Linked DNA regions of Homo sapiens. The protein of the gene in region 1 binds, or shares a complex with, the protein of each later gene. Each region holds a gene or a part of one and is shown in the gene's direction. Other genes may lie near its edges.

Evidence for each region. Proteins that work in one complex are often made in the same cells at the same time.
Region 2: TUBG2 (region 1) and NME7 share a complex: the UniProt entries of both Homo sapiens proteins name them as parts of the gamma-tubulin ring complex.

What each region holds. Positions count from the first base shown.
Region 1 is NC_000017.11:42,662,284-42,667,537, forward strand, and holds the end of TUBG2 (tubulin gamma-2 chain), read left to right. Parts: intron 1-689; coding exon 690-769; intron 770-1,093; coding exon 1,094-1,220; intron 1,221-3,192; coding exon 3,193-3,279; intron 3,280-3,394; coding exon 3,395-3,544; intron 3,545-3,803; coding exon 3,804-3,956; intron 3,957-4,039; coding exon 4,040-4,201; intron 4,202-4,319; coding exon 4,320-4,517; 3' UTR 4,518-4,723; downstream 4,724-5,254. UniProt on the Homo sapiens protein: Tubulin is the major constituent of microtubules, protein filaments consisting of alpha- and beta-tubulin heterodimers. Gamma-tubulin is a key component of the gamma-tubulin ring complex (gTuRC) which mediates microtubule nucleation.
Region 2 is NC_000001.11:169,322,767-169,329,797, reverse strand, and holds part of NME7 (nucleoside diphosphate kinase homolog 7), read left to right. Parts: intron 1-5,297; coding exon 5,298-5,405; intron 5,406-6,514; coding exon 6,515-6,681; intron 6,682-7,031. UniProt on the Homo sapiens protein: Possesses an intrinsic kinase activity. Displays 3'-5' exonuclease activity with a preference for single-stranded DNA. Does not seem to have nucleoside diphosphate kinase activity.

The sequences.
Region 1 (5,254 bases):
ACTGAGTGAGATCCTGTCTCTAAAACCAAAACAAATTTGAGGACAGGTGCGGTAGCTCATGCTTGTAATCCCAACACTTTGGCAGGCCGAGGCGGGCAGATCACTTGAGGTCAGGAGTTCAAGACCAGCCTGGCCAACATGGTGAAACCCCGTATCTACGAAAAATAAAAAAATTAGCCAGGCGTGGTGGTACATGCCCGTAGTCCCAGCTACTTGAGAGGCTGAGGCAGGAGAATGGCTCGAACCTAGGAGGTAGAGGTTGCAGTGAGCCAAGATCGGGCCATTGCACTACAGCTTGGGTGACAGAGCAAGACTCCGTCTCAAAAAAAAAAAAAATTGAAAATACCGTAAGTAGAAATGCATCAGGTTATAACCCAATAAGCCCATCATGAAGTTGAAAAATTGTAAATTGAACCATTGTAATTCAGATGCTTCTTGATTTAAGATGGGATTATGTCCTGATAAACCCATCATAAAGCCAAAACATCTTAAATTAAACCATCCTAAGTCAGGGACAGTCTGTAGGTAGTCCAGAATTGAAGTGAATTAGTGGATACCCAGCTGGCATCTACTGTAGAATTGACTGCTTACCTGATGTGTGTGGTAAGACCCCACCCATCTGGTATCAGAATTGTGTTGTGAGAGTGTGGCAGGAGAAACTGAGTCTGTTTATTCCTGTATACACACAGGGCTTCGTGCTGTGTCACTCCATCGCTGGGGGTACGGGTTCTGGCCTGGGCTCCTACCTCCTGGAGCGACTGAATGACAGGCAAGCCTGTGTTTGGGGAGAGGGCATTAACCCTGGTTCCCTGAGTAATGTCATTGCTTTTTTCTCTTGAGCTAGAAAGTCTGCCACTACCCCTTTTGAGTCATAGGGACAGACCCACCCAAGGACCATGTTGGAAGCTATTTTGGGGGGTGGGGGTTTACCTGTGGAGGGGAGGGGATCTACAGAGTTTGAAGCTTTCAGGCTTATCCTTTTTGGCTCTGAAGACTCAGTTCTGCCCTCACCCCTTTTGTACAAAATGGCACATATGGGCAGTGATGGAGGGGTCCTTCCGGTTCACTATGCCACCATCCTCTTTTCTCTCAGGTACCCCAAGAAGCTAGTGCAGACTTATTCAGTGTTTCCCTACCAGGACGAGATGAGCGACGTAGTGGTTCAGCCCTACAATTCACTCCTGACACTCAAGAGGCTGACGCAGAACGCAGATTGTGTGGTGAGCAAAGAAAGAGTTGAGGGGCTGGGTGTGGTGGCTCATGCCTGTAGTTCTAGCACTTTGGGAGGCCTAGGCAGATGGATTGCTTGAGCTCAGGAGTTCAATACTAGCCTGGGCAACATGTGAAACCCTATCTCCACAGAAAATACAAAAATTAGAGCTGGGTGCGGTGGTTCACACCTGTAATCCCAGCACTTTGGGAGGCTGAGACGGGCGGATCACCTATGGTTGGGAGTTCGAGACCAGCCTGACCAACATGAAGAAACCCCATCTCTACTAAAAAAACAAAATTAGCCAGGCGTGGTGGCGCATGCCTGTAGTCCCAGCTACTCGGGAGGCTGAGGCAGGAGAGTTGCTTGAACCTGGGAGGTGGAGGTTGCAAGGAGCTGAGATTGCAGCATTGCACTCCAGCCTGGGTGACAGAGCGAGACTCTGTCTCAAAAAAAAAAAAAAATTAGCCAGTCCTGGTAGCATGTGCCTGTAGTCCCAGCTACTTGGAGGCTGAGGCAGGAGAATCACTTGAACCCGGGAGGCAAAGGTTGCGGTGAGTCAAGATCACACCATTGCACTCCAGCCTGGGTGACAGAGCGAGACTCTGCCTCAAAAAATAACATAAAAAAAAATTAGCCGGGCATGGTGGCATGTGCCTGTAGTACTAGCTACATGGGAGGCTGAGGTGGGGGGATTGCTTGAGCTCAGGAAGTCGAGGCTGCAGTGAGCCATGATCACACCACTGCACTCCAGCTTGGGCAACGGAACAAGACCTTGTGTTTAAAAAAAAAAAAAAAAGGGTAGAGGACTTTGGTCTGTCTCCTCAGGCCAGTGAGTCTCATTCACCCCACCTTTCCTCAGCCCCTATACACACAGACAGAAGACCAACAAAGCCATACCTGTGGGCCAAATTAGGAAATAAGGTCCTGACTTCTAAGTTTCTTAGAATCCTTTTAGGCAGCAAAACTCTCAACAAAGTGAATATACCTTCCCCACACCACCACGTATCCCACCTTTGCCTACTTAATGCCCACTCATGCTTGTATTCTTAGCTCAAGGATAACTTTCTTAGCAAAACCCTTCCTGACTACTCAGTCAAGATCAGATTCCTATATGTGTATTTTAGGGAGTTAACTATAATTTTCTGTTTTATATTTAGTGTGCCTCCCTCCACGAGACTATAGGCCTAATGAAGGGAAAGACGGTGCCTGTTCCTCTCTGTGGTCTTCCCAGAGCCAGGCACAGTGTATGGCACATGTGGGTACTCACGTGTTTGTTTACTGCCCTGCGTAGTCCGAGAGTATCTCATGGTGCCCCAGAAACAGTACTTTTCTTTCTTTTTATTTTTTATTTATATTTATATATATATATATATATTATATATATTTATACTTTTTTATTTATATTTTTTACAGAGATGGCATCTTGCTGTGTTGCTCAGGCTGGTGTCCAACTCCTGGCCTCGAGTGGTCCTCCCACCTTGGCCTTGGGATTACAGGCCTGAGCCACCATGCCCAGCAGTACTTTTATTTTATTTTATTTATTTTATTTTATTATTTTATTTTATTTTTGAGACGGAGTCTTGCTCTGTCCCCCAGGCTGGAGTGCAGTGGCATGATCTTGGCTAACTGCAAACTCCGCCTCCCGGGTTCATGCCATTCTCCTGCCTCAGCCTCCGAATTAGCTGGGACTACAGGCGCCCGCCAACATGCCTGGCTAATTTTTTGTATTTTTAGTAGAGACGGGGTTTCACCGTGTTAGCCAAGATGGTCTCGATCTCCTGACCTTGTGATCCGCCCGTCTCGGCCTCCCAAAGTGCTGGGATTACAGACATGAGCCACCGCGCCCGGCCTCAGTACTTTTTTTTTTTAAACTAACAAACCTACTTCCTGGCTTTGGAGTTCAGCAGGGGCTAAGCCAATATCTTATTTCTATGCCCATTTTATCCTCAAGATGCTGTGATGCTCTTCTGTCCCCCCAGGTGGTGCTGGACAACACAGCCCTGAACCGGATTGCCACAGACCGCCTGCACATCCAGAACCCGTCCTTCTCCCAGATCAACCAGCTGGTGGGCCCCCACTCCCGGACTCCTTTGGACTGGAAGCCCTCCTTGCTGGAGGGTCATCTGGGGAAGGAAGGTCCCACCCAGGCCGAGCCCCATGACATGGCACGCCTGTCCCCAGGTGTCCACCATCATGTCGGCCAGCACCACCACCCTGCGCTACCCCGGCTACATGAACAATGACCTCATCGGCCTCATCGCCTCGCTCATTCCCACCCCACGGCTCCACTTCCTCATGACCGGCTACACCCCGCTCACTACAGACCAGTCAGTAAGAGCAGCCTTCAGTGTCCCAGGCCAGGCTGGCCCTGGGCCCAGCAGGCCCTGCCCCAGCCTTTCTCTCTTCCCCACTGCCCCAGGAGCTGCCCTTTGCAGGCCCCAAGGCACTGCGCTCAGGGACTGGCACAGAGCGGGCGACTTTCTTGCTGACTTTCTCTCCACCCTCCCTCTGCCTTTGGCTTCTGCCAAAGAGAAGCCAAAGGGACTGTGCCCTGAGCGCTGGCCGGGTCCCTGTCTCACTGTCCCATCAGGTGGCCAGCGTGAGGAAGACCACGGTCCTGGATGTCATGAGGCGGCTGCTGCAGCCCAAGAACGTGATGGTGTCCACAGGCCGAGACCGCCAGACCAACCACTGCTACATCGCCATCCTCAACATCATCCAGGGAGAGGTGGACCCCACCCAGGTAGGGGAGGCCCCTTCATCCCGCGCCCTGGACCTGCAGGGGTAGAGGAGAGGCCACCTCCACTGCTCCTATGCCCACCCCAGGTCCACAAGAGCCTGCAGAGGATCCGGGAACGGAAGTTGGCCAACTTCATCCCGTGGGGCCCCGCCAGCATCCAGGTGGCCCTGTCGAGGAAGTCTCCCTACCTGCCCTCGGCCCACCGGGTCAGCGGGCTCATGATGGCCAACCACACCAGCATCTCCTCGGTGAGTCTAGGTTTCTATTCTTCTTAGAAGAGTCTGTTCCACTGGCCACCTTCATCATCTTCCCCAAGTTCACTCCTAACCCCCTGGCTCGCATTTTGGAGATTTTCATCTCTTTCAGCTCTTTGAAAGTTCCTGCCAGCAGTTTGACAAGCTGCGGAAGCGGGATGCCTTCCTCGAGCAGTTCCGTAAGGAGGACATGTTCAAGGACAACTTTGATGAGATGGACAGGTCTAGGGAGGTTGTTCAGGAGCTCATTGATGAGTACCATGCGGCCACCCAGCCAGACTACATTTCCTGGGGCACCCAGGAGCAGTGATTTCCCTCCCCACTACTCCTTCTCCTTCTAGATGGTAACCACAGCCTCGACCATGCCTGCTCCCTCTGACCCAGCTTCACCTCATGGACAACCCTTCTTGGTTCATCTCCAGCCCGTGAGCTGGTCCTGCTTCCTCCCTTCCATGCCCTAACTTTTAATATGCTTGTTCAGCTCTAATAAAGTAATAAAGCTTGGTTGTCAGTATAGCCAGGGCTTGATCTGTGAATACGGGGGGGTGGTGAAGGGGTCCAGTTTCTAGGCATCTGACAGTAGGGTGGCCTTCACCTCCTCCAACGTCTTATCACTTAGTCCAAATCTTAGTGTGTTCACTGTTTCCATTGGCATCCCTCACCTTGAACTAGGCTGTTTAGTATTACTAGAGTCAGCCCTTGTCTCAAGATTACAGAGCTTTACTGAGGTTTGCTGTCTCCTCAGCGCCTAAGCTTTGCCCCAGTGAGGGTCAATGTTGCCCCAACCTCTTCCACTCAGGGCAGAGGAGGTGGGGTCTACTGAAGGAGGGCACACTACATTCTGAGCAGGCCAGGAGAGCCAAGGTTCCAGATTCCCAGTGCCCAGGGCCATGAGAGTTCCAGGAACTCAATCCAGTTCAACCCAACCTGATAAGTAGAAACAGAATTCAAGAGTAGGGCTGAGCACATCCTGAGTTACTTTTCTGTGCCAGAGAAATTCGTGGGTTTGTTATCTGCCCCAAGCTTCTCTCCATTCTAGGCCCAAAG
Region 2 (7,031 bases), on another chromosome or scaffold:
AAGGTCTCTGTTATTAGCCCTTTGAATAAACTTTCTACCCCTATCTCTTTCTCTACTTCTTCTTTAAGACCAATAACTTAGATTTGCCCTTTCCAGCCTATTTCCTAGATCCTATAGGTGTGCTTCATGTTTTTTATTCTTTTTTTGTCTCCTCTGTGTATTTTCAAATAACCTGTCTTCAATCTCACTAATTCTTCTGCTTGATCAATTCTGCCATTAAAGGACTCTGATGCCTTCTTCAGTACGCTTTTTGCATTTTTCAGCTCCAGAATTTCTGCTTGATTCTTTTTAATTATTTCAATCTCATTGTTAAATTTATTTGATGGAATTCTGAATTTCTTCTCTGTGTTATCTTGAATTTCTTGGGTTTCCTTAGCAGAGGTTTTTTTTTTTTTTTTTTTCAGGAAACACAAATTTTCATGAAATTTGAAAATTCAAACCACAGCATGACATTAAGAAAACACAAATATTACTTATCCAGAAGAAAAAGTGTTTTGAACTTTTTCATAAAATATTTAGGAACAAGGAAGTTGAAGCTTGGAGCGGTAGAGTGAGAAATAAGGAATATGTGGGAGAGAAAGTAAAGTGAAAAAAATTAGATCAGATTTTTTTTTTGTTGTTGTTAGCACTAAACTGGTTTGCTTCAGGCCCCTAGCCAGGGTTGATTTTGAAACCTATAGCAGAGCTATTTTGAATACTCTGTCTGAAAGGTCACATATCTCTGTTTCTTCAGGATTGGTCCCTTGTGCCTTATTTGGTTTATTTGGTAAGTTCATATTTTCCTGGATGATCTTGATACTTGTGGATGTTCATCTGTGTCTGGGCACTGAAAAGTTAGGTATTTACTGTAGTCTGCAATCTTGGCATGTTTGTACCCATCCTTCTTAGGAAGGCTTTACATGTATTTGAAAAGTCTTGGGTATTATGATCTAAGCTATATCTGCTTTAAGGGGCACCCTAAGTCCATTATAAAACTAATGATGAATGTGCAACAGATAGTGTTATAAAATTTAAAAAGAAAATTGTTACTAAAATTTTTATTGACAAAAACAGATCTATAACTGTTTGAACTCCCCAAAAGGTAAGAATTGTACTTTGGCTCTGATTTATTAATATGATATATCCTTTACAAAAAAATTTACCTAGTATTATATGTTCAATAGTTTTTATTTTCATTTATAAATATAATTTTAGTCATTTTTTTGTCCATCATAAATCCCTTTTTCCTTCATACTGATTTTTTTCTGCAAAGACCTTTAAAAAACTATTTACCTAGGGTTAGTTGCAGCTGAGGCTGCATCATCACAAATCCAGAGTTGCTCTTCTTGTATGTCAGAAAAAGATCAGTGAGGGAGATGAGTGTGTACAATGCAGTTCTAAAGTCACAGGTGGACCTATAAGCCACCATCATCGCTTTGGGAGACATAGGCAACAGAAATCCTAAGTGCTTCATGTAAACTAAGTCATTTAATCCCCAAAACTACCTTATGAAGAAAGTACTGTTTCCATTTTTCAAATGGGGAAAATGAGAGTTAGAGACATTAAGTCTTGCCCAGGTCTTTTGGACTCTCACAAATATTCCTCCATAATCCCCCCCTCCAAAAAACCCCTTTATAGTTTCCTGGATCTTCTCTTTAAGCAACACATTTCAGGGCCATGTCTCTTGCTGTAGGCTGCCAGCAAATGATAGCAGCAGTAGCACCAGCAGCAGCAGACTTATCAGATTGGTGTGCTCGTTGCACTCAGCATGCTAGTAGTACCAGGCCCAGTTGGTATTTGTTGATTGATGATCATAGTATCATCAGGAATGGAATAGCTTTCTGATCAGTATTATTGAAATGAGGCCAAGGTACAATTTTGCTTGGTAACATACGCTTAAACTTACTCTTGAACTGAGAGTTTGGATTTTTTAAAGTATATCTGTATGGAAAAGATTGTTAATTTCATATGATCCACTGTAAAGCTGGACCTTCCTTTAAACAGTAGCAGAGAGAGGTGGTGGTGTGATTTATTTCTCCAAAGACTTGTTTAATCTTCAAATATAATTTCACTTGCAATTCCAATATTGGTCAATATTTCCATAAAATCACCTATTTTTTGTTATAAAACTTATATGAATTTTACATTCCACTCAATAACATATATTTATATACACATATATGCATGTTGCAGTGTAAAAATTGTTTACGTTACTTACCATCGAGTAAGACTGGTGCTCTAGGAAAGTTCTCTCTGTATAGACAGAGACCTTAAGACTTTAAGATACTAAGGCTTCTGGGTATAATAATACCACATTGTCCAGTTCAAGTCACTTCAAGACTTCTGGTATAATAATACACATTTTCCTTTAAGACTTTAAGATTTCTGGAACAAAGTGTGATTATGTGTGAGGGATCAACTCTTTTATTATGTATAACTTATATTTAAAATGTTCAAAAGAGGAAAAATGATTTGGCTTCTTTAAGAAAGTCTCTTTTTGATGCAGTGTAATCTTTAAATGTTCCTCATAAAGTACTTTTGATAGAAGTTGGAATCTTCAGGGAAGAAGGAGCTAATGATTGTCTGTGTAATCATTAGGTTGTGGCATTCTCATCAGAGCATCTGTGACAGACAACTCAAGGTGTATCTATGTGCTACTAAAGTGTTAGTTTCTCTCTCTTGAGTTGGCCCTGGAAGGCTAGTGATATGGAAATATCTGAGTCATAGGAAATGTAGTTTCCAGTTTTGGCTCAGTTATTAACCAGCTCTGTGACCTTATGCTAGTCATTTATATTATCTGGAGTTCAGTTTCTTTATCCATAAAGTGAAGAGTTAAAACAAAATGATATATAGCTTTAATAGCATTTGAGGAAGGAAACCAAGTTCCTCCTTTTTTCTAGATTTGGCTCAACAAAGCTGAAAAGTAAATTTTCTTTAAATTTTAAGGGTGGCTTTGGTCTGGATGGTGTGTGTATGTGCATGTGTGTCAGGCAGGTAGTTGAAAGGCCAACCTCACTGTGATGTTTTATCCCAAGTCCAGATGTACCACTGTTATATCTCCAGGTACATCTTTTAACTCTAGGAAGTAAACACAGTTTTTACTGTAAAGGTAAACCAGAAAGTTAAGTTTAAATCAAGTTTGAATATAATTTGTACTTGGAGTAATAAACCTTTTCCCACAGAGGAAACAGCACTAGCTTGGGAGTTCGTTTCCAAAAGCTCTACTGAACAAGCACAGGTTTCAGCTCACTTTTGTACCTGTTTCTCTGTCCCTTGGTGGGCTCCCTCTACCAGCTTCTTAGGCTTCTCAGTCACTTGTCTGCTTGACTTGAGACTCAGCACATGTCTTACGAGTAAAGACAACGCAATGAATGTTGGTTTCACTTCAATGGGCTTCCTGTCTTTCTGGATCTTGGATCCTCAGATCCTGGCTGCCTTAAAAGCTCTCCAAATCTTTGATATCCTACTTTTCTAGTTGTTCTTAGAAGTAGCATTGGTTTGCTGTGAGCTACTTTGTCATAGCCAGAAGCAACAGTTCCTCAGTTTATTTTCTTTGTATTAAAACTCTTTTCTGGATAGAGTATAGTGCAAAATTCTGCTGCCCAATTCAGAATTAAAGAGTGTGGTTGGCAGGTTTGGTGGATAGGCTACATGGATAAATGGAAGTACCAGGTTTCGTGGATTTTTCATTTGCTTTAGTTAGATGTGTCATTTCTTCTATTTTATATTTATTTTAGTGAAGGCAACATTTCAATTATGTATTTAAATAAATATTTTATTATGGATAGTAAAAATTTTAATAATCTACTAATATTTAAATTTTTATTTGTAGGTGAGTACAATACTAGAATGCACAGTGAAACCTAAACTCAAAAAAGCTGTATTGTTATAATCAATATGAAAAATATATATGATGAAAGGCTTTTACAAATGTCATAGTATGTCTCTTATTTTACATTTATTTTCTCTTGAGTAATCAGCATGGTTTAAATATGTCTTTGGATGATTGTGGGAAAAATAAAAGTGTCTTAAAAATAAAAGTGTCATCTACGTTATAGTTTATGGATATATTATAAACATCATTAGACACACAACTTCTACCATTAGAATTTATAAGTCAATTATTAACTTAAAAAGAACCCCCAAATTTTCCCTAACCAGAGCATCAGATGGCAAATCCAGAATTAGCAATAAAACTCCTAGATTCCCTTCTTCCCTATGCTTTTATTTGCTTATTATAATGAAGATCTTTGGGGCGAGGGTATTTTTACTAACATATATGATGGGAAGTCCTGCTCAATAGTCAAGGGAAAAGGACCCATCTTTGACTTATTTTTTTCATTTTTTGCTCTCTGTGGTAGCCCTAAGAGTGTACTTCACAGACCTCCAACTACAGGCAACCTAAGTGACCAAGGGTCCCAGCTGCTGTTCTCTGAAATCCACTGCTGCTTTTGTGCTGAGCACTTGCTTCCCAAAGGCTGCTCCCAGCCACTGATTGAGAGGAGCAGGGATACTAAAGCTGGCCCCTCCCTGTCCTTGGGAGTCACCTGGCTCTAGCACTTCCTGATGGGCTTACAGAACCTTTCTTAGAGGGTGTAGCAATGTGGGATGATTCCACTTAACCTTCCTTGCATCTCTCCACCACTCTGTGTCAAACTTCTATTGTTTTTATCGGCTTTTCTAGTCTTCCTTGGCTCCCTCATCATTTTATATTACGGGAATTTTCCTTAATGAAATTCTTGTATGTTCAATCTTGTCTTCACATTCATTTTCAGAGGTCCTAGACTAACACATTCTCTATTTCTATAAAAAGATACTATCATATGAAATTACTAAGGAAAAAAAAATGTTTGCTATAATTTTAATGGTAATATTCTGATACTACTAGATTCTCAAATTTAGGGAAGTCAAAACTTCATATAATTGAGAGCTCTCCTCAGAAATTTATTCTTATATTAGTTTATTGATAGTCTGTATGTAAACTTGCTTTCAGAAGGACTGAATTGTTACAATAGTAAAATCAGGAGCTCATGTTCTCAGAAAACGTTAATTTACTCAGGATGATTAGATGGCTGTAAAGTAAAAAGCAATCCATAAGTCATCTTTGAGATATCTAAGGGTATTTAGTGAGAAATTGAAAGGAAATATTGCTGAGGGTGTGTTGATAACTGATACTTTGTTGAAAAGCAGAAACATTCAATATAATAGGTAGAAGTAATTTTGTTTCTTGCATATTGGTAATTTCATTTTGTGTGACTTACAGAAGAGTGCTTGTTCTTTATATGTTAGTGTTAAAATTCTTCTGTCTTTCTTTGCAGAATCATAGTGAAAGATTCGTTTTCATTGCAGAGTGGTATGATCCAAATGCTTCACTTCTTCGACGTTATGAGCTTTTATTTTACCCAGGGGATGGATCTGTTGAAATGGTAAATAAGCCTTTCTTTGCTTGAATGTTGGCAAAGGGGGTGAACATGGGAACCATTGCCTTTTATATAATTGCTTTTTAAAAACACATTTATATGTATGTGTGTGTGTATATATACATATGGAAATTCTTTTTAAACTTATTCATTATAATTCCAATATAAGAAGTTAACTTGTGCCTTTATTTTTAATGTCAAAAATAGGAATTTTTTGTTGTTGTTGTTAGAAGACTGAAGTGGGGGCTGGGCGCGGTGCCTCATGCCTGTAATCCCAGCACTTTGGGAGGCCGACCCAGGCAGATTACTTGAAGTCAGGAGTTCGAGACTAGCCTGGCCAACATGGTGAAAACCCATCTCTACTAAAGATACAAAAAATTAGCCGGGTGTGGTGGCACATGCCTGTAATCCCAGCTACTCGGGAGGCTGAGGCAGGAGAATAGCTTGAACTCAGGAGGTGGAGGTGGCAGTGAGCTGAGATCACGCCACTGCACTCCTGCCTGTCCTGCCTGGGCGACTGCATGAGACTCTTGTCTCAAAAAAAAAAAAAAAAAAAAAAAAAAGACTGAAATGGGATTATTCATGTTTTGGATAAGAAATAAACAAGTGATTATAGATAAGGATTATTATGGTCATAAATACGTCCTCATTATTGAAAGCTGTTATTGCTACAAAAAGTCAAATTGAAGAGGCTCAAGCTAAGAGACTTCTGTTTCTTTGTGTTCTTTCACTGGCAACACAATTTTAACAAGTAGATCTTTTTGGTATTGGGATTTTGTGTACACAAGAAAGCAGAAATTTGGGTGTATGACTCTTTCTTTAGCATTTTGTAAGGACTACTTTGCTGAAATGATTTGGTAATAAACAAATCTTTCTATTCAGGTTTTTAAGAGTATTAAATTTGTAATAAGAAGCTTTTATGTTATTACCAGATTGGATTAGGAAATATGGAAGTTATTAAAAATTATGATTTATATTTGTAACAAAAAAGAAACAGAATATAACCTATCTTTGATAAGACAGAATTAAGAATTATTTCTACCTTATGATGAGATTAACTTTCCTTATTCATAACTTTTTTTGTTTGTTTGTTATATTGTTGTGTCTGGTTCTAGCATGATGTAAAGAATCATCGCACCTTTTTAAAGCGGACCAAATATGATAACCTGCACTTGGAAGATTTATTTATAGGCAACAAAGTGAATGTCTTTTCTCGACAACTGGTATTAATTGACTATGGGGATCAATATACAGCTCGCCAGCTGGGCAGTAGGAAAGAAAAGTAAGAAAACAATTATATAATCTTTTTACATGCTCTAACTTTGGGTTCAAAGTCAATCTGAATCAAGACTGGGAGTATGTAACCATATGAGGATGGATAGGACCTGGAAAATGGTTGTCTTCATTCTTTTTCTTTTTTTCAATTTAAAAAAAAATTGATAATACCATAGTTGTGCATGTCTCATCTGACTTAATTCATGTTTATGTCTCCTGTGGCACTTAGCACATCTCCATCCACATTGCAAGCACCTTGTCTGTATTAGCTGAACGAATTAATGAATCACAATTTAAAATCTATGATCTATTCTTTCCTTTTTCCACTTTCTCCCTGTTTTCAAATGATGATCTTTG